2 separate regions of the Homo sapiens genome follow, and region 2 is linked to region 1. The links come from fine-mapping of genetic effects on gene expression. A gene starts in region 1. The other region holds a variant in brackets. All regions are shown on one strand. Distances are from middle to middle.

Region 1 (10,228 bases):
AAATATTCACTCACTCCCAGCGTTAACTTCCCTCATCCTTAAGAACAGGCTATCCATGGAGCTACCAAAATGCACTTTTAAAAAGTGTGTTCATGCTGCACTTCATATTCATGCTCCCTTTTCCCTTGACAATGTGTTATATGTTGAGAATCTTTAAATAAAACTGCTCAACCACCAAAAAATTATTTCTCCCCATTTCTATTCATCAGTACTTCTTATCTTGAAGGCTGATTTCAATAATCATTTATCCCTCACAACTTCATACAATTTCTTCCTTTTAGAGTCCCACTGAATATCATTTATATTTATCCCACGCTATTTTTTTATTCTAGTTTATATTATTACTTGTGAACTTTCCTAATCTCGTCTCCCAAACACACAAACCCTTTAGCTACTTCCATGGGAGGCTATCTTATCTATTACTCTCCACACCCCCAGCCACGGGATATGCAGGAGACACTAATGGATCTAGTATATCACACAGGAAGCAGATCACCAGGACGACAATTACAATCAGCAAATCCCAGTATCCACTAAAGACAGTGACAAGGGTAAAAAGACAATAGCTGAGAGCGAGGTAATAAGTGTTCATGAAGAATTTCTTAAGCCTCAGCATCTTAGCAGCTATAGCAGAATGCCATAACAAAGACAAAAGTATTTTGAGTGTGAAGTTATACCATGACATACAAATGCATCTGTCAATGAGGCCGTTAGAAATCTTCCAGACCAAAGGTCCCAAACACCCACCATAACCTTCTGATTCAATAGGGCACATATGGGGAAACTGTACTGTTAAAAAGCACTTCTACCAAGAAAAGGCAAAAAATGTCCCCTCACCACTCCTTCTCAACACTGTACTGGACATCCTAACTAATATAATAAGACAAAAAAGGAACTAAAAGGTATACAGGCTGGGTGCAGTGGCTCACGCCTGTAATCCCAGCACTTTGGGAGGCCAAGGAGGGTGGATCATGAGGTCAGGAGTTTGAGACCACCCTGACCAACAAGATGAAACCCCATCTCTACTAAAAACATAAAAATTAGCCAGGCATAGTGATGCATGCCTGTAATCCCAGCTACTCATGAGGCTGAGGCAGGAGAATCGCTAGAACCCAGGAGGCAGAGGTTGCTGTGAGCCGAGATCCCGCCACTGCACTCCAGCCTGGGTGACAGAGTGAGACTCTGTCTAAAAAAAAAAAAAAAAAAAAAAAAAAAGATATACAGTTTGGGAAGAAAAAAATTAAACTGTCTTTGTTCACAGGTGACATTATTTGCTATCTTAATTTAATTTCCAAAGAATTGATGAAAAGCTTCTGAAACTACTAAGCAATTATAGCAAGGTTGCAGAAGACAAGATTAATATACAAAAATCAACTATTTTCCTATATACCAGAATTCAACAAGTGGTATTTGAAATTAAAAGCACAGTACCATTTACATTAGCACCCCCGAAAATGAAATACTTATGTATAAATCTAACAAAATACATATGAGTCCTATATAGGAAAACTACAAAACTCTGATGAAAGATGTAAAAATAAATAAATAAATCGAGTGATATTCCATGTTCATGAATACAAGGACTCAATATTGTCAAGACATCAGCTCTCCCCAAACTGATCTAAACATTCAGTGTAATCTCATCAAAATCTTACTAAATTATTTTGTGGATAAACTGAATCCATAGTTCATATGAAGAAGCAAAAGACACAGAATAGATAACTCAATATTGAAGGAAAAGAACAAAGTTAGAGGACTCACACTACCTGACCTCAAGACTTACAATAAATCTACTGCAGTAATCAAGACAGTGTGGTATTTATGAAACAGGCAAATGGATCAATGGAACAAAATAGCACAGAAATAGATCACCACAAATATAATAAGCTGATGTTTGACAAAGGAGCAAAGGCAATACACTGGAGAACTTTCAGTCTTTTCAACAAATGATGTTGGACATCCACATGCAAAAAAATAAATCCAGACACAGATCTCACACTCTTCATTAAAATTAACTCAAAGTGGATCGAAGGCCTAAATGTAAAACACAACACTATGAAACTTCTAGAAAATAAGAGAAAATCTAGATGATCTTGGGTTTAGTGATTTTTTTTATTTTTATTTTTTATATTGATTACTGTGTTCCAGGATATTCTAATTTACTAATTTTTATTTTAATTTTTTTCTGTCTAGTCTCTGATTTTTTAATTTTAATTTTTATTTCAATTGTTTTGGGGCGACAAGTAGTGTTTGGTTGCATGGAAAAGTTATTTAGTGGTGATTTCTGATATTCTGGTGCACCCATCACCAGAGTAGTGTACATTGTGCCCAATGTGTAGTCTTTTATCTCTCACTCCCCTCCCAGCCTTCCCCCTGAGTCCCCGAAGTCCATTATATAATTCTTATGTCTTTGCAATGACTTTTAAAATACAACATCAAAGGGATGAGCCATGAAAGAAATAATTGATAAGCTCACTTCGTTAAAATAAAAATTTTTTTATTTTGCTAAAGACAATGTCAAGGAAATGAAAAGACAAGTTACAGACAGACTGGGAGAAAATATTTACAAAGACACATCTAATAAAGGACTCTTATCCAAAATACACAAAGAACTCTTAAAATCCAACAATAAGAAAATGAATGACCCAAATAAAAAATGGGCAAAAGACCTGAAAACACACCTTATCAAAGATATACAGATAGCAAAGAAGCAGAGTAAAAGATGCTCAACGTCATAGACTTATGGAATTTCTGTTAAAACAATGAAATAGCATGATACACGATTGCAGTGCAGTAGAGCTTCCCCCAGGAATACTGTTCCCAGACTTGTGCAGGGCTGGTTCCCTCACTCTTTGCCTTTCTGTTTGCAGCATAAATGCCACTTCATTGAGGTGTTGAGGATTCCCTCACTCTGTCCCTTCCGCCTCTCACCACAAGCACCTGCTTTATTTTACTATAGCACCTGCTCTTTTTTTTTCTCATGCATTTGCTTTTATGCTCTGTCCATTCATTCCTACAGATGGTGAGCTCCTGAGGGCAAGGCCCATGCAGGTCATTTTCAGCACTGCACCCTGGCCTAACTTGCCCCGTGCACAGGTGAGTGCTCCAGGCACAGTTTCTGAATGAATAAATGAGAGTATCGAAGATCCCCCTTCCCACCTGTGAGGAGCTCACATTGAGGAGATGGATGCTCACAGGAGATGCAAGTTGGGTGGGAGGCAGGGGGACACCCAGAGTGACCCTGGGAGTTTCTCTGGCTGCAGCCGCCCCATTGAGCAGAATGGGCAGCGCCTCCCCTGATGGCCAGCACTGAAGACCCAGGCAAGGAACCTAGAAACAAAGCCCTCATCTGGGTGTGGGTGTCCTCAAGGCAGTAGGACTCCCAGGGCTGAGGGGGGCAATGAAGGGGGAGCTGTAAGCTCCAGGAGAGATAAGAGGGGCGTCGGAAGGCTCCCTTGACCCCTCTTTCCCTCCACTGGCCCTGGGGGAGCCCAGTCCACTCATAAGGGGGGTGTCCAGTCCACCCCATCCACTTCCAAACGGGGGCCCGAGGCTGCAAGCAAGGACGCTCCCCTCTACATGCAGGGCTCGGCCTCCCCTGCACCACCCAGGACCCCCGCTGTCCTGCAAGCCCCAGCCGCTCTGGGCCAGGACCCAGGGAGTGGAAGGCATTTTCCAAGGGCACAGTGGCTCCCTGACGGGGAACCAAGGCCAGGCACGCTTCTCCCAGACTGGGGGCCTCGGGGCACCTGAGAATGGCCATCCTTGGTACAAGAGAGCGGGGACCCACTCCCGCGCACCCTGTGCCCCAGGGGACGCAGGACTCTGCACCCTGACCCTAGAGCTTGCCCTAGGATGGCCCGGCCATGGCGAGGCCCTGGAACGGTGAAGACTCTCTGCCCATCAACCTAGCACCTCTGCCCTACCCTCAGTCGCATATGCACCCGGTGCGAGGGAGAAGGCAACCAGGAGGTCACACCTAAGGTGGGGGCGTGAGCGGCAATGCCAGCCGATTGTAAAACCTTCCCTGCTCCTGCGTGGCTCTGCAAGCCAATCGAAAATTCCGTCGTCTATGCCGCCAGCCAATCAGGATGTCCAGAGCGCGGTGCTTCCAGCCATTTGGGACTCCAGCTGGCTCTGCGCCTCCAGCCAATCGGGGTGCCCGTCCTTAATACAACCAGCCAGTCAGTGCCCGGCGCGCGACACCAGCAGCCAGTCAGGAAGCCCTGCGTTCATGCTTCCAGCCATTGTCGGAGTGTCAGCCGTCACAAGGCACTTCCAGCCAGTCGCAACGGCGGGTCGCCAGCGCCGCAGTAGCTCGCGCGGTGCCTGTCGGTAGTCGCGTGCGGGGCGGCGGGGCGGCGGGGCGGCCGGCGGCGGCCATGGGAGATATCCCAGCCGTGGGCCTCAGCTCCTGGAAGGTGACGCGGTCGCGGGCAGGGAGGCGCGCCTGACCTAGGGGAGCGCGGGACTTGGGGGCGCCCGATGGGACCCAGGCCGGGGCTGGGGAGAAGTGCGGCGGCCTCCCCTCCGCCTGGCCGACGCCCGGGAAAGGCGCTGCTGAGGTGGCCGCCCACCGCCCACAAGCAGCCCGGCCCGGCCTTTCCTAAAACGGAGTCGGTGCTGCCCGCCGAGGCGCTCTCTGGGAGAAGCGGGAACCTCGGCAGCCAAGCCTCAGACTCTGGGGCTGCGGCCGCGGCGTTGGGCGGGGCTGCTCTGTGGAGAGGCGGAGCCCTTGAAGTTACTCAGAACTGGAGCGGGGATGCCGAGGGGAGGCCTTGGCGGCGCTGGACTCGGCCGGAACAGGGAACCTCGAAGCCTCCTCTCCAGCAAAGAGAGAAAGAAAAGTTGGGGCCGGGCGTGGGGTGCGGGCTTGTAATCCCAGCACTTTGGGAGGCCGAGGCAGTAGGATCGCCTGAGCTCAGGAGTTCAAGACCAGCCAGGTCAACATGGCGAAACCCTGTTTCTACAAAAAATGAACAAATCAGCTGGGCTTGGGGGTGCGCGCCTGTGGTCCCAGCTACTCAGGAGGCTGAGGTGGGAGGATCACTGGAGACCAGGAAGTCGATGCTGCAGTGAGCTTTGATGGCGCCACTGCACTCCAGCCTTGGGGACAGAGCCAGACCTTGCTGGAAAAAAAAAAAAAAAAAAGAAAAAAGGAAAATTGGAATTGCTGATTAGGCTTTAAAAGAAACTTTGGGATCTCATGTTGTTCCCTGTTTAGAAGCAACCTGCCCTGATGCCTGAGACATATAATCGCTCTGTGCATTTATGGGGTGCAGCGTAATGTTTTGAGCCGTGTATACAATTGCAATGTGGTTAAATCAAGCTAATTAACATATCTATCACCTCTCTCAGTTATTATTGTTTGTGGTAAGATGTTTGAAATGTCTTGTTATTTTGAAATACACATGTGTAGTAAATTATTGTTGACTGTTGGCATCCTAGTGCGCAGTAAGTCTTAAAAGCTGTGTCTCCTGTGTGTTTGAAACTTTGTACCCTTTGATCAGCAACTCCCCATTCCCTCCTTCCTCACCTCCCCCAGCCCCCAGCGTCTTATAACCACCATTCTATTCTACGACCTTTCTCTGCTTTGAACTTCACAATTCCTGCCAGTGATTTGAGACAGCACTGACTAAAAAGCGTTTAAAATTTGATCTTTAAAAAAAAAAAGCTAAACTTAGTTGTTGATAAAAGCTATAAGAAGTCATATAGGAAGTTAGTTACTGAAGGAGTCAGAATGTTCAAGGCCTGCTCATGAAAATATTATTTAAATTATTTCTCTTACCTGCTTACCAACTCTTAGAGGCTAGGAGTGTCGTTTTGTTCATATTGGTTCTCAGCATCTAGTGAAGGACGTGCATCTGTCAGCCCTTCATTCAGTAAGCACTCGATGGATTAAACTGTTGAGTCTCTTGCTTCCCTTTATTTCTGCAACAATTTGGTGCAGGAGTCCAGACTTTCGTGCACACAGGATAAGGAAAAATTAGTGAAAACTGTGCTTAACAGGTCAAAATATTCTATTTATTTTTCTTGGACTGCAGGTGCATCAAATTGGATTAATCATAATCACTCATCACTGGTCTATGCAAAGGCTTATTTTTACTCGTCTATTTTTAATAGTGAATAAACATCACAGACCTATCCGTTATCTGTTGCCCCAGAAATGCTGCATCAATGGCCAAACACCAGACCTCAGTGGTGTACAGCAGCAAGTGTATTCCTCCCACACGGGAGGTCAGGAGAGCAGCTCTGTGGACCTTGGCTGGGCTCAGTTGGGATGGTTGGGGCTACTCCACTTGGCTCCGCACATCTCCTGTCCTCGTGCGGTTAGTTAGGGAGTGTTCTCAAGATGATGGCTGAAGCACAAGAGAGCAAGGGGAGCGGTGAGATGTCTGGAGACCTCAGCCTGGGCTCTTCATTATTAGGGGCCACTTGATCCATCTGTGTGCCTGATCGGTGCTGTCTTAATTACTACAGTTCCTTGATAAGCGCCCATACCTAGTAGGGCAGGTCACCTCTCCCTGCTGTTGTAGATTTACAGTGTACAATTTGATGAGTTTTGACAGATGCATGTACCTGGGTCCTGGCTTTTTATTTTGGCACCTTACTCTCCACTGTAAGTTTTAGAACTAGCTTAGAAGGTTCCATGAGAAACTTTATTGGGGTTTTGATTGGAACTACATTAAATCTGTAGACCAGCTTGGAGATAATTGACACCTTTGTAATGTTAAATCTTAACTTTTCTACAAGCATGGTATTCTTCTCTGTTAATAAATTGTCCTGAATATGGTTCATTTCTAACATCTTTTCATATGGTTGTATAGTTTTTCCTGAAGAGAATATATGTCTTTTGTTGGAATTATTATTGGGTTCTTGATAGTGTGTTATACTACTGGAAATTATATTTCTCTGAAGTTACATTTTCTACTTGTTTCACCTGCTATATTCATTACACTTCCAGCCACTTTACTAAACTGTACTGTTATTTCTGTTAATTTGTGTTACATTTGTTTGGATTTTCTACACAAATGATCATATCATCAGCAAATAATGGTAGTTTACTTTCCTTTTTTTCCACTCTTTAAGCTTAAAATTGCTTCTTCTTAGTTGTTCAGGTGCTTCTGGAAAGCACCTCCAGCACAGTGGCCATTCTTGTTTTGTACCTGATTTTAAAGGATGTAAGATGGATATTTTTTAATATTGATACTCTTTATCAGATTAATTCTTTTCCCCGACTTACTGGGAGTTTAGATTTTGAATCTAAACTGGTATTGAATCTTAACAAATATTGATTGAGTTGACTTTTGTTTTTGTACTTTAATCTGTTAATATTGATGAATTACAGATTTTCTAATATCAAACCATCCTTAGATATCTGAGATACACTCAACATGGGTGTGGTATATTATCTTTTCATAAATATTGTTGCATCCAATTTGCTTTTATTTTACTTATGAATTTTGCAACGGTATTCATGAATAAGATGAATGTGTGACTTTTAATATTTTTGTCTGATTTTGATTCAGGGTTATGCTAGTTTTGTAGAATGAGTTGAGATAAGTCCGTCTTTTTCTGTTGTTTGAAAGTCTGTGTTAAACTGAGATGATTTTTTTCTTGAAAATTTTATGAAACTGGTGGTTTTCTCTTTTTTTTGAATTCCTTGCATTCTTTAATAATTATGTAACTATTCAAGCTTTATTCTTGGGTTAAATTTTTCTAGGAATTTTCCCATTTTATCTCATTTTTCCAAGTTATTGACATATAGTTATTGGTAATATTTTCTTTTAAGTCCATTTTATCTGCATGTTTTACTGTCCATTCGTGTCAGTTTTTTAAAAAGTTGGCCTCTTCATCAACCTAGCCAGAAGTCTGTTTATTTTACTGAAGTTTTTCAAAGAACTGACTTCTGGTTTTGTTGATCTTCTCTGTTACATCTTTGTTTTCTATTTTATTGATGTTATTCTTAATCATATTTTTATCTTTCCATCCAATTTCTTGGGTTCTTTTTCTAACTTAAGATGGATACTTGGTTCATTAGCTTTCAACCACTCTGAATCTGTTGCCTATAAAATGAAGATAATTATGCTGCTCTAACTCCTAGGGTTACCGTGAAGCTCCAGTGAGAAAGTGGTTTGTGAACTATAAAGCCCTTGTCAGTCTTCAGTTTAATGAGACTGCAAACCCGCCCACCCCCATAGTCTTCCCTAGTTCTAGTCCCTTCCCTTGCCTGAGCTTCATTTAGAGTGACTGTTCTCTTTTCTGAACTACCTTATTGCTTGTAGCATTATACATTCATTTAGGTTTTGTTATATACTTCTTTTTGTATGGATACCTTCGTGTGAGTCTACACCTCAGCCTTTATTATTGGACGCTGTGGTATCTGAGTATACAGGATAAATCTTAAGCCTCTTTGCATCTCAGTTATTATTCATTCTGTACTTTTTTATTGCTTTGATCATTCAGGAAGCATACCATCTAGCTCAGTTTTCTGCAGACACTAAAAATAACCTATAGTTTTTTTTTCCCAAAATATGTAAAGGAGTTGGAACTTAGATTATTCATAAATTCCTTCATAACTGATATTGCCTGTTTTTAGACTGATTATACTAGTACCAAATTAGTGACTTAATTTTTTATGTATTATGTTGTCCACATGCTTGGGTGAAAGGGGAGATTTGTGTTGGATTCCTCTGACTGTGAGAAGACACTTTGTTTTGTTGGTTTTGCAGGCTTCTCCAGGGAAAGTGACCGAGGCAGTGAAAGAGGCCATTGACGCAGGGTACCGGCACTTCGACTGTGCTTACTTTTACCACAATGAGAGGGAGGTTGGAGCAGGGATCCGTTGCAAGATCAAGGAAGGCGCTGTAAGACGGGAGGATCTGTTCATTGCCACTAAGGTAGGGCTTCTCTATGCAAGGCTGGCAGAGCTTGGGTAATGCTACATCTCTGGAGGGCTTTCTACTTTCTTTATGGGAGTTGATGACTTTGTTTCATACTCAAATCGGAATAAACAAGAATATTCACAGCTTCATGAGCATGCTGAATTATATTGTGTGCAGGTTTGTTTCATATTATTTACTTGGTCATTCAGGTAGGAGTACACAGATATCCCCCAATTAACAATACATTATCAAAATTCAGTTAGTGATGGGCACTTTGACTACAGTGGTGAATAGGACAAAGTCCTAGCCCTCATGAAGTCTGTTTACACAGCGATTCCTAAATTCAGAATCACTGGGGTGATTGTTAAATGCAGATTCCAAATTCTACCCCACATCTGTTGAAGGAGAAACTCTGGGTGTGGAGGAAGCAGCTTGAGCACAGGCATAAGGCAGGAAGCAGCACGGCAGGTGCAGGGGTTTGTAGGAAGCTTGGTGTATTAGTCTGTTCTCATGCTGCTGTACGAACATACCTGAGACTGGGTAGTTTATAAAGAAAAAGAGGTTTAATTGACTCACAGTTTCACATAGCTGGGGAGGCCTCACAATCATGGCAAAAGGCGAAGGAGGAACAAAGGCACGTCTTACATGGTAGCAGACAAGAGAAAGTGTACAGGGGAACTGCCGTTTATAAAACCATCAGTTGTCACGAGACTTATTCACTATCACCAGAACAGCATAGGAAAAACTTGCCCCCATGATTCAGTTACCTCCCACTGGGTCCCTCCCATGACACGTAGGGATTATGGGAGCTACAATTCAAGATGAGATTTGGCTGTGGACACAACCAAACCAAATCACTTGGTCTCTCTGGACCACACAATGTCAGGTTGCAGGAGTAATGAGAAGTGAGGCTGAGTGGTGGATAGGCTAAGCCATGGAAGTTCAGCTGTGCCCTGTCAGGAGCTGTGCTTTTACCTAGAGACAGAGGAGCCCTGTTTCATTTTTAAATAGGGCAGCTTGTATCATATGTGAGTGCAACTTGTGTTGTATATAGGATATTTTAGTAGGTGAAAGAAGCTTGCATTTGAGGCAGAGGCAGGAGGCCAGGTAGGAGACATTAACAGCAGTGCAGGTGGAAGATGATGAAGGCCTGCACTGGCACAGTGGGTGAGGGAGGGAGAAGAGGAAATGGATGTGGAGGGTATTGGGAGTCAGGACCTGTGGAAGATGCAGAGTGGACTACGATAGTGGAGAATTCAAGAATTCCTTTGCTTTTGATTTGGAAGCAGAATGTAAGACCATGAGATCAGGAGTCATGGGTTCATGGTCTAGCTGCCATTCAG
Region 2 (10,474 bases), 82 kb after region 1:
CAGTATTGCTGCCAGCATATCTCGACTCCAGCCACAGGGCGGTTTTCTCCTGTCTCAGAATAGAACCAATGGGATTGGTCTGCTTTACACCTAGACATTCCATTCCCAGGGACGAACAGGAGACAGAAGCCTTCCTCTTATCTCAACTGCAAAGAGGCCTCTCTCTTTCACTACTCCTCCTCAGCACAGACCCTTTATGGGTGGGATGTCGGGCTGGGGGACTGTCAGGTCTTTCCTTTCCCACGAGGCCATATCTCAGTCTGTCTCAGTGGGGGGAAACCTTGGACAGTACCTAGGCTTTCTTGGGCAGAGGTCCCTGCAGCCTTCTGCAGTGCATGGTGTCCCTGGTTAATCGAGAATGGAGAATGGCGATGACTTTTACCAAGCATACTGCCTGCAAACATATTGTTAACAAGGCACATCCTGCACAGCCCTAAATCCATTAAACTTTGATTCAATACAGCACATGTTTCTGTGAGCACAGGGTTGGGGCTACAGTTACAGGTTAACAGCATCTCAAAGCAGAAACAATTTTTCTTAGAACAGATCAAAATGGAGTTTGATATGTCTTCCTTTTCTACATAAACACAGTAACAATCTGATCTCTCTTTCTTTTCCCTACATAGGACCTGCTGAGAAACAATATCAATTAATCAATTATCCAAGTTCAGCAATTTCAGCTGGTCTTTTTGGGGATATTTCAATAAAGCTTTATTCATGAACACTGAAAGTTTTAATTCATGTAATTTTACATGGCATGAAATAATATAAATCTCTTACATTTTCAATCGCTAAAAAATATACAAACCATTTTTGGCTCATGGGCTATACAAAACTGGGCAGCACGTTAGGCTTGTGGGCCATAGTTCTGTATAGTTAGTGGGTATTATTATATCTGTAGTTATTTTTCTATAAATTCTTATTTTAAAATTATGATCACATACATACAATGTAATATTTATTATTGTAACTATTCATAAACATATAATCCAGTGGCATTAAATGCATTCACAATGTTGTGTGACCATCACCATTTCTATACCCAAAACATTTTTGTCATTCTTAGCAAAAACTCTGTACCTATTAAAAAATTTCCTTTTGAGTTGTTCATTGTTGGTGTATGGAAACACAACTGATTTTTTTGTGTGTTGATCTTATACTCTGCAACTCTGCAGAATTTATTTATTAACTCTAGAAGATTTCTTATGAATTATTTGAGATTTTCTACATGTAGGGTCATATCGTCTGTGAAGAGAGGATTCCTTTTACTTCTCTTTCTTGTCTGATAGCTCCAGCCAGAATATCCATTACAATGTTAAATAGTAGTGATGAAGGCAGGCATCCTTGTCTTGTTCCTCACCTTAAGGGGAACACTTCCAGTCTTTCCCCTTTGAATTTCTCACATATGGCTTTTATGTGTGTTTTTTACCTTTATTATATTAATTGTTTTATTACATTAATTGATTTTCTTCTTTGAACCATCCTTGTGTTCCTAAAGTCCCATTGGATGATGATGTATAATCCTTTTAATATGTGATGGGATTGGATTTTCTAATATTTTACTGCAGATTTTTGAATAAATATTCACAGGGAATAAAGGTCTACAGTTCTCTTGCAATAACTTTATCTGAGTTTTGTATCAGAGTAATGATAGCCTCATAGAATGAGTTTGGAAGTGTTCCTTTCTCTTCAAGTTTTTGGAAGCATTTCAGGATTGGTATTATTTCTCTTTAAATGCATGGTAGAATTCACCAGTGAAGCCATCTGGTCCAGAACTTTTCCCCACTGGGAGGTTCTGATTACTGATTAAATCTCTTTACTTGTTACAGTTCTGTTGAGATTTTCTATTTATTCTTCAATTAGTTTAAATAATTTGTGTGTTTTAGGGAATTTGTCCATTTCTTCTAGGTTACCTTATTAATTGACATGCAATTGTGATAGCATTTTCCTATAATTCTTTTTATTTTATAAGGTAACATTCTCACTTTCATTTATGATTTTAATTATTTGCATTTACTCTCTTTATATTTTTGTCAGTCTAGCTAAAGCTTTGACAATTTGCTGGTTTTTTTAAGTACAAACTTTTCTTTTCATGAATTTTCTGTATTGTTTCTCAAGTATCTTTTATTGTTTTCACTCTAATCCTTATTATTTCCTTCCATCTCCTAGCTTTGAATTTAGCTTGTTCTTTTTTTTAGCTTCTTATGATGTAAAATTAAGTTATTGATATGAGGTCTTTCTTCTTTTCAATGTACGTATTTACAACTATAAGTTTCCCTCTGAGCATTACTTTTACTGCATCTAATAAGTTTTGGAATGTTGTGATTTCATTTGTATTCCAAGTTCTTTGTAATTTCCCCTGTAATTTCTTCTTTGACCTATTGATTATTTAAGACTATTTCATCTAATTTCCATATAATAGTGAATTTTCCAGTTTTCCTTCTGTTATTGACATCTACCTTATCTCATTGTGGTTAGAGAAGGTAGTTAATATAATAGCTATCTCTTAAAATCTATTGAGATGTGTTTTGTGACCCAGCATAGGGTTTATCCTAGAGAATGTTCCATGTGCAGTTGAGAAGAATGTGTACTCTGTGCTTGTTGGGTGGAGTGTTCTTTATATATTAATTAGGTGTAGTTGGTTGGTTTATTGTATTGTTCAAGTTCTCTATTTCTTCATTTCTGTCTGGTTGCTCAATCATCTATTGATGGTGGGGTATTGAAGTCTCCAGTTATTATTGTAGAACTGTATATTTTTCCCTTCTATTTTGTCACTTTCTTGCTATATATATTTTGAGGGTTTATTATTAGATCTATAAATGTTTAGAATTATATATTCTTGCTGTAGTCTTTTATTAAAATATAATTTATTCTTTGTTTCTTGTAAATTTGATTTAAAGGCAATTCTATCTGATATTAATATAGCCAGTCCATCTCTTTTGTAGTTATTATTTCTATGGAATATCTTTCTTTATCTTTTCACCTTCAAGCTATTTGTGTCTTTAGATCTAAAATGAGTCTCTTTTTTGGCATCATATAGTTGGGGTGGTTTCAATTTTTTATCCATCCTGCCAATCTCTGTCTTTTGATTGGAGTGTGTAGTCTATTTAAAGTTAATTATTAATAAGAAAGGGCTTACATCTGCCACTTTTCTCTCTGTTTCTTATATATCTTATGCTCTCTTCTTCCTCATTTCTTTCGTCCCTATGTTCCTTTGTGTGTAGTTAATTTTTTAATGAAACATTTTGATTCCCTTCTCAATTCCTTTTGTGTAGCTTCTGTAGATACATTCTTTGTTACCATGGAAATTACATTTAGTCTCCTAAAGTTATAACAATCTAATATAAACTTATGCCAACAACTTCAAAAGCTTACAGAAGTTCTGCTCGTAACAGCTCCGTCCACTATTTTATTATAATGTAATAGATTACATCTTTATACATTGTGTGCCCAATAGCATACATTATAAGTTATTTTAACAAATTTGTATTTTAAATCTAGTAGAAAATAAAAAGAGGATGTACAAACCAAAATGAAAATAGTAGTAGCTTTTATAATTGCCCATGTATTTATGTTTACTGGAGATTTGATTTCTTCAAGTGGCTTTAAGTTACTGTCTAGCTTCTCTTATTTCAACCTGAAGGACCCTTTTTTGTATTTCTTGCAGAGCAGGTTTAGAGGTAATGAGCTCCCTCGGCTTTTGTTTATCTGGAAATATCTTAATTTCTCCCTCACTTTTGAATGGCAGTTTTGTCAGATACAGAATCCTCAGTTGACTTTTTTTTTTCTTCTAATGTACTTCTTTCAGTATTTTGAATATATCAACCTACTGCCTTCTGGCCTCCAAGGTTTCTGGTTGCTTCTGTCTTACTGCCTTTAAAGTTCTCTCTCTCTTTTTATTATTTTTAAATAATTTTATTATAATGTGTTTTGGTGTAAGTTTCTTTGAGTTTATCATAGTTGGAGTTCTTTATAATAGCCATACCCCTAGAAGGTTACAAAACTAATCTAGAAATAATCTTAAAAATTACGGTCTTTTAAAAAAGGATTAAGTGTCAGTATAGTAACATATTTTACAATCTTTGCATTTGTATGTTTTATCTGCAGCCAGTTTTATCAGCTATGAACCTGGCTTTGCAAAAATTATAACTGAGGAAACCATGACAGTGAAAGAGATCAGACCTAATTGATTCCATGTTGCTTCTAACCTTTAAGCTATCCTTGCTCATTTCTGGGCGTGCACCAAACTAACTATGGGAAGGAATTCAGTTCATGGTTTGACTCTGAAACAAAATTGATAACAGCCCTTTCCTGAAAAGACCCCCTTCTTGACTGGGGACCAGTCTGCCTTTCCAGGACTAACAAATTAGCTACAATATTAGAAGTTATGGTTTAGGGGTCATCCAGCCTCTGGCTCCAAGAGTCTGAACCTACCCAAATTGCTCCTGGGGATAACATCACTATTGTAAAAGTGAAGATCAGCACTTGAGATATTTTGCAGACTCTGTACTCCATGGATCAGCTGACACCACCCAAACCAATAATATAGCTGCTCAGCCAGTCTGCCATCCCACCCAGGGACAAAAGACAGCAAGAAGACCACCCTTCAACCCCCTATGATTCCATCTCCAACCTGACCAATCAGCAGCACTCCCCACTTCCCCAGCCTCTACCTGCTAGATTATCTTGACAAACTCTGATCTAATAATAAACAATAAAACTCCAGTCCCCCACACAGTGGGCTCTGCGGGAATTACTCTTTCTCCATTGCAATTCTCCCGTCTTGATAAATAGACTCTGTCTAGGGAGTGGGCAAGGTTAACCCACTGGGCAATTACAGGTATATAAAATTCTTAATTTCACCACAAACTGTTTAAGAAAACTTGATTTTTCAAAATTTTAATCAATGTGTAAATATTCAGAAAAAACTACTTTCTGTGTTTTAATTGGTAGGATACAGTCAATCAACTTGGTGTAAAACTAAGCAAAATTAATTGTAGATATTATTTCTCTCCAGGCACAAAAACGTGTTTTGAACCTACTCTAACCAACTGTCAAAAGGCTGTGTTAAGTGATTCTCTGACAAGGTAAGATCTAATGCTTGGTGTCTTTTTGAAGTTTTTCAAAATTGCCTCCAATATCAACCTTCCCTTCCCTTTCAGCATTCTGTTCCCTATCTTTCAGCTCATCTTTCTAGTTTTCCTATAGCAAGAAAACGTGTTCAGAGAGCAAGATAATTATATGTATTGATTCTATATGAGAAATATCACCTGTTCTGTCATTAGGGGCTTTAAATATGCCTACCTTATTAAAGAGCTACTTCTCTAGACACAACTGTGACTGAAGAATTAATTCACTCAAGATCCAATATTACCCACAGCGACTCCTTCA[A/G]TCTCAACCTCCTACTGTGTCAAAACCAAGCTTCCTTCATGAACACTTACCTATACCAAGAGTGCAGACTTTCTTTTCCCTATAGTAATTCAAACTGGGTATTGTGTTGCTTTTCCCTACCACTTTTCTCTTCTGGGACTACTTATATTTACTGTAGTGCATCTGTCTAATTTCAAATATTAAAGAGGCAGGTTCTGTAGTGACAAAGGACTATAGGGAGTTGGTTTTATCTAAACTTTAAAGTAGTGGTTTTCAAAGTTTGGTACCAGAACCTATGGGGTCCCTAGAATCCTTCTGGGGGCATGATGTAAAAATTATTCTTATGATAATACTAAGAACCTATTTCTTTTTTACTCTCATTCTTTTGTGAACGTACAGTGGAGTTTCCCAGAGGCTTATGTGGTATTGATAGATGCAGGACGCAGATAAGGTGGGGGTCGAGGGAGTCCCCAGAGAATCTCCGACCTACTCCGCAAGTGTTTACATCAGATGCTTTCGTGCAGATGAGGGAACCTGCCCAGGGTGTTGTCTGCACATGCCCACAATGGACTGGGGACCCGCCTGTGCACTGGGAGAATAAGGTGGAGCCACAGGAAGTTCATGGCCTGTGCAGCAGGAGGAGCCTGGCCTCTTCTGGTCCTGTGTGTTGGCCTGGTACTCAATCTGTGAGGTGGTAGCATGTTAGCAGGAGTCCCTCTCAATTTGCTGACAGCTTTTTTTTTCTCCTTTTTCCTATTTGCCCATACATTCTGCTCTCTTCACCCTTCAATGTGTCCACATGCCTCATTTATCCTGGTCATGACACAAGAACCGGGATTTAGCTGAACTAAGAAGCAAAAATTCTGCATCATTTTGGTGGCGTGTACAGGGACATGAGGAAGGGTGAGTAAGATGTGAACCAAAAAAATCATTTTCCCTTTTGTTTCTAAGCCTTTTTGTACTCGGACTTCTTATGAGGATAGAGGAAACTGTGTACCACCCTACCTCAATGGCCACAGGTGCTCCCTGCCCCCCTTCGCTCCTGACTGGGATGCATGGCCATAACTGCCACAGGTGCGTGTGGTGTCTAACGGCCATGCTGGGCAGAAATGAGCCACAGCCACTGCCTGGGCCCCAAAGTGGCCTCAGGGACCCAGGCCCCATGTGGCAAGCTGGCCAGTGTTCCCTGCAATGCATCTACGGAGTCTTCCCCACCCCTGGCCAAGGGGTCCAGCTCCATCAGACAGTAATTAAATTTCTCTCTCTGTTGTAGGAACCATTTGCATAATTAAAAAACATCTTCCCACCCCTGCACTTTAAGCTTTTTTTCTTTTCTCCACCAGGTCAGGAGTTAACTTTTAAGTGAGACCTTTTTTCCCCCTTTTAGAAAACGTTTTACTAGGCCAGGGCCCCAGCTGTCACTGTTTATATTCTCTGTAAAGTTTGAATTATAAAAAAGGATTTGTAAGGTTGGTCTTAAGCTGCAGCCAATCTGGTGTGCTCTGCATGTCTTTCTGTATGGTCAACAGCAAACTTTGCTGCAGGCCTCCATATTGTTTTACATCCTTGGAATTGTGACCTGTAACCACATGGTAGTGCTTTATTTTAGCTTCTGCCATTTTGCAATGGCAGCCTACGTTCAATCCTGGCTTAGGGAATGAGTCTTTTCTGGTTTGATATCTGTGTGACTTTTGCCATTTGTTGATTGTCTTCCATTCTACAAACTGCCTTGGATTTTCCTTTTCCTGAGCCTTTAGTAAAGTTTGAAAGCCAGAAATATTGGCCTCTTGGCACAGCTAAAGTGGGGTAACAGGGATATAAAGGGTTTTCTTAAAGAGCGCTCAGCTTAATTAAAAGTGAATGTCCAAGTTACAGGTATATTTAAAAGGCCTTTATGTTTTTTCTTCTTGGCTCTTGCTTTCCTGGAAAAAGGTTTTTTTCTCATTTGACTGAATTATTTTTCTCCATTTTGCCTTGCCACTCATAATATACTCATGAGTGGGGAGAGACCTCGGATTTCCTCATGCAGCCTCAGGAATTAGAGGCGGATGGAGCCCTCTCAAAATCTGTTTTGTCTTCCAGCCATACCTGTTTATTAGGCCCTAGAAACTGCATGTTTTCCTAGCCTTGCTCTTAAGGCTCCCGCTTGCAGTGCAAACCAGTAAAAGGCCTCAGGATTTTTGAGCTCTTCTTATCCCACCTTGTTTTCTTTTGATACATGTTTTCTAATAACCCAGTTTGTCTCTTCTCACCTTCAGGCCAACAAACTCCAACCAGTCATGCAACTAGAGCCCTGGACAATGCCCTCTTCTACTGGGAACCCTTAGATCAAACTCTGAGGGAGATCTGACTGCTGTTTTCCCAAAACAGTACCCCTTGTCAGCAGGACGCACTTCAGATTTGTCTTTGCCTTATCCTTATCCTTACTCTAACAGCTCCATTAGATGTATTTCTTTAGGTGGGGAATGATAGATGCAGGAGGCAGCTGAGGGAGGGTCCCTAGAGAATCTCCAAGCCACCCCACAAGTGTTTACATCAGATGCTTTTGTATAGATGAGGGAACGTGCCCAGGGTCTTGTCTGCACATGCCCACAACGGACTGGGGACTTGCCTGCCTGCTGGGAGAGTGGAGTGGAGCCATGGGAAGTTCATGCCATGTGCAAGGGGGAGGGGCCTGGCCTCTTTAGCTCCTGTGTGGTGGCCTGGTACTCAATCTGTGAGATGGTAGCCTGTTAGCAGGACCCCCCTCACTTTTTTTCTCTTTTTTCCTTTTTGTCCAAAAAATTCTGCTCTCTTCAGCCTTCAATTTGTCCATGTGCCTAAATTTTTCTGATCATAATACAAGAACCTGGATTTATCTGAGCTAAGGAGCAGAAATTCTGCATCAGTGTATGACATTGCAACAGATTAAGGCAGAAGCAGATTTGAGATTCTGGCTGTCCTCTGTGAAGCTACTCATGAGATTTTCAAAATTATAAAACCACATCATTTTTCTCTCAATGATTTTTGTTTGGTGAAATATTGTATTTTGTTATAAAATGTATTATTTATGCTAATAGGTAATAGGTTTATTTCTTAAATAAATTGATGCATAAATATTTAAAAGTTTTTTTTAGTTTAAATTTCTAATTTGGTGCCTATCAATGGATGTAGCACATGTAAACTAAAGCTTTGGGGGTCCTCAATAATTTTTAACAGTATAAAGTGTTCCTAAGACCAAAATTTTGCAAAAATATAGTTTCAAATTTATTTAAGGTACTTCAGGCTGTGGGAAAAGATATGGAAAACTCTCTATTTTATGAGGCTAGCATAACTGATAATAAACCTAAAAAATAACAAATGAAAAAATACAAGTATAGCTCAATTACACTGATGAGCCTAAATGCATAATTCTAAATAAAAATATTACTTAATAGAATCCAAGACTGTATAAAATAAAATAATATGCCAATTTGTAAGTTTTAATGTCAGTGTTATAATTATTTTTTATATCTGGAGATCTAGTAACATAATTTATGACATCAATAAATTTTAAAAGAATAAAAACATAAATTTATATCTATAGATGCTTAATGATATTTTAGGCAAATAAAACTATAACTAAAATATAAATTGAGTAATTATTTAAATGGAAATAAAAATAATTTACCAAAACACCCAGTAAATTTTCCTGTTGCAAAATATTGAATTAAAATGTACAAATAAAGAGATCACATCACCATTTTAATTTTTATTTATTTTTTTTTTTTTTGAGAAAAGGTCTCACTCTATCACCCAGACTGGAGTGCAGTGGTGCGATCATGGCTCACTGCAGCCTCAATCTCCAGGACTCAAGTGATTCTCCAACCTCAGCCTCCTCAGTAGCTGAGTCTACAGCTGCGCACCAGCACACCCAGCTAATTTTTGTATTTTTTGTAGAGACAGTGTTTCACTATGTTTTCTAGGCTGGTCTTGAATTCCTGAGCTCAAGCAATCTGCCCACCTCAGCCTCCCAAAGTGCTGAGATTGCAGGTGTAAGCCATCACGTCCAGCTTTAAAATTTTTATTGCCATTTTTGTCAAGTACCAGACACTATTAATTACAGAGCATTATTTTGTGTACCTCTAAGAAAGAAAAATGCTAATTATTATTTTAAGGTGCCATGAATTAGACATGTTAAACTGTGAAAATATATATACTTTAGAACTGGCTAACTATAGTAAAATTGTCTTGGATGCTGCAAATACAATATCAAAAGAGAACAACTGGTGAAATATTGGATATTATTATAATACAACTAGAAAATTCGAGAGATCCTAGTAAAAAAAACACTCAGTAGAATAAACTGGAAACTTCTGTAGTGACTGTATACAAAACAAATGCACAAAACTTGAGCCAAAGCATCTAGAATTGGAAATGAATAAAAGTTGCATTCACTCAGATAACAACTTCAAAATACTTAGGAATAAAGTTGACAGGATTACTAGAGATTCCACAGAATAAAACTATGTGATATCATTGAAGGCATATAATAAGGTCTGAACAAACAAAATGTAACATTTTTGGATGAGAAGACAATCTATTAAAATGTAAATCTCATAAAATAATATATATATATCCAAGAAATTCTATTTCAAATTCCAACTGACTTGTTTTTAATTGGATACAATTTCTTTAAGTGTATATAAAAATTAATGTGAGAGAGAAAATTTATGAAAAGTAGAACAGTGAGGGAAACTTGCTTTAATGGAACTCACATCATATTGCAAAGCCAATATATTCTAAGCAATAACAATAACATTGGTATAAGTTTACACAGAAATATCAGTTAACTAGACTAGGAAATTCAGAATTAGTTTTTATTTATATAAGAATTTAAGATATGATTCAAAAGGTAGTGCAATTCAGGGGAGATAATAAGTTATTTAATAAATAATGCCTGAAAAATGTTATTGACCTTACAAATAGAATTCTATACCTTCTGACATCATATATGTCCAAAAAATTCCAGCTATATGACACAAACTATAAAAAACGAGGAGGAAAAACTTACAAGGAATGTCCAACGTGCCATCTTGTGTGACAGAAGACCTTGTTTAATAAACAACAACAACAAAATCCTTGC

The links. PIP is the estimated chance that this variant, and not a neighbour inherited with it, causes the effect.
Region 2: its variant is the best candidate, but not a certain one, in a credible set for the expression of AKR1E2 in skeletal muscle (GTEx, PIP 0.59).

Annotation. Positions count from the first base shown.
Region 1 is chr10:4,821,943-4,832,170 of GRCh38, forward strand. It overlaps AKR1E2 (aldo-keto reductase family 1 member E2), which reads left to right and starts at 4,265. Exons shown (of 10, transcript NM_001040177.3): 1 at 4,265-4,421; 2 at 8,733-8,900. The coding sequence starts at 4,383. RefSeq lists a silencer at 4,692-4,771.
Region 2 is chr10:4,903,334-4,913,807 of GRCh38, forward strand. It overlaps the pseudogene AKR1C6P. Among named protein-coding and RNA genes, the nearest start is that of AKR1C1, 55 kb to the right of the region's middle. The variant A/G (reference allele first, on the strand shown) is at 5,392.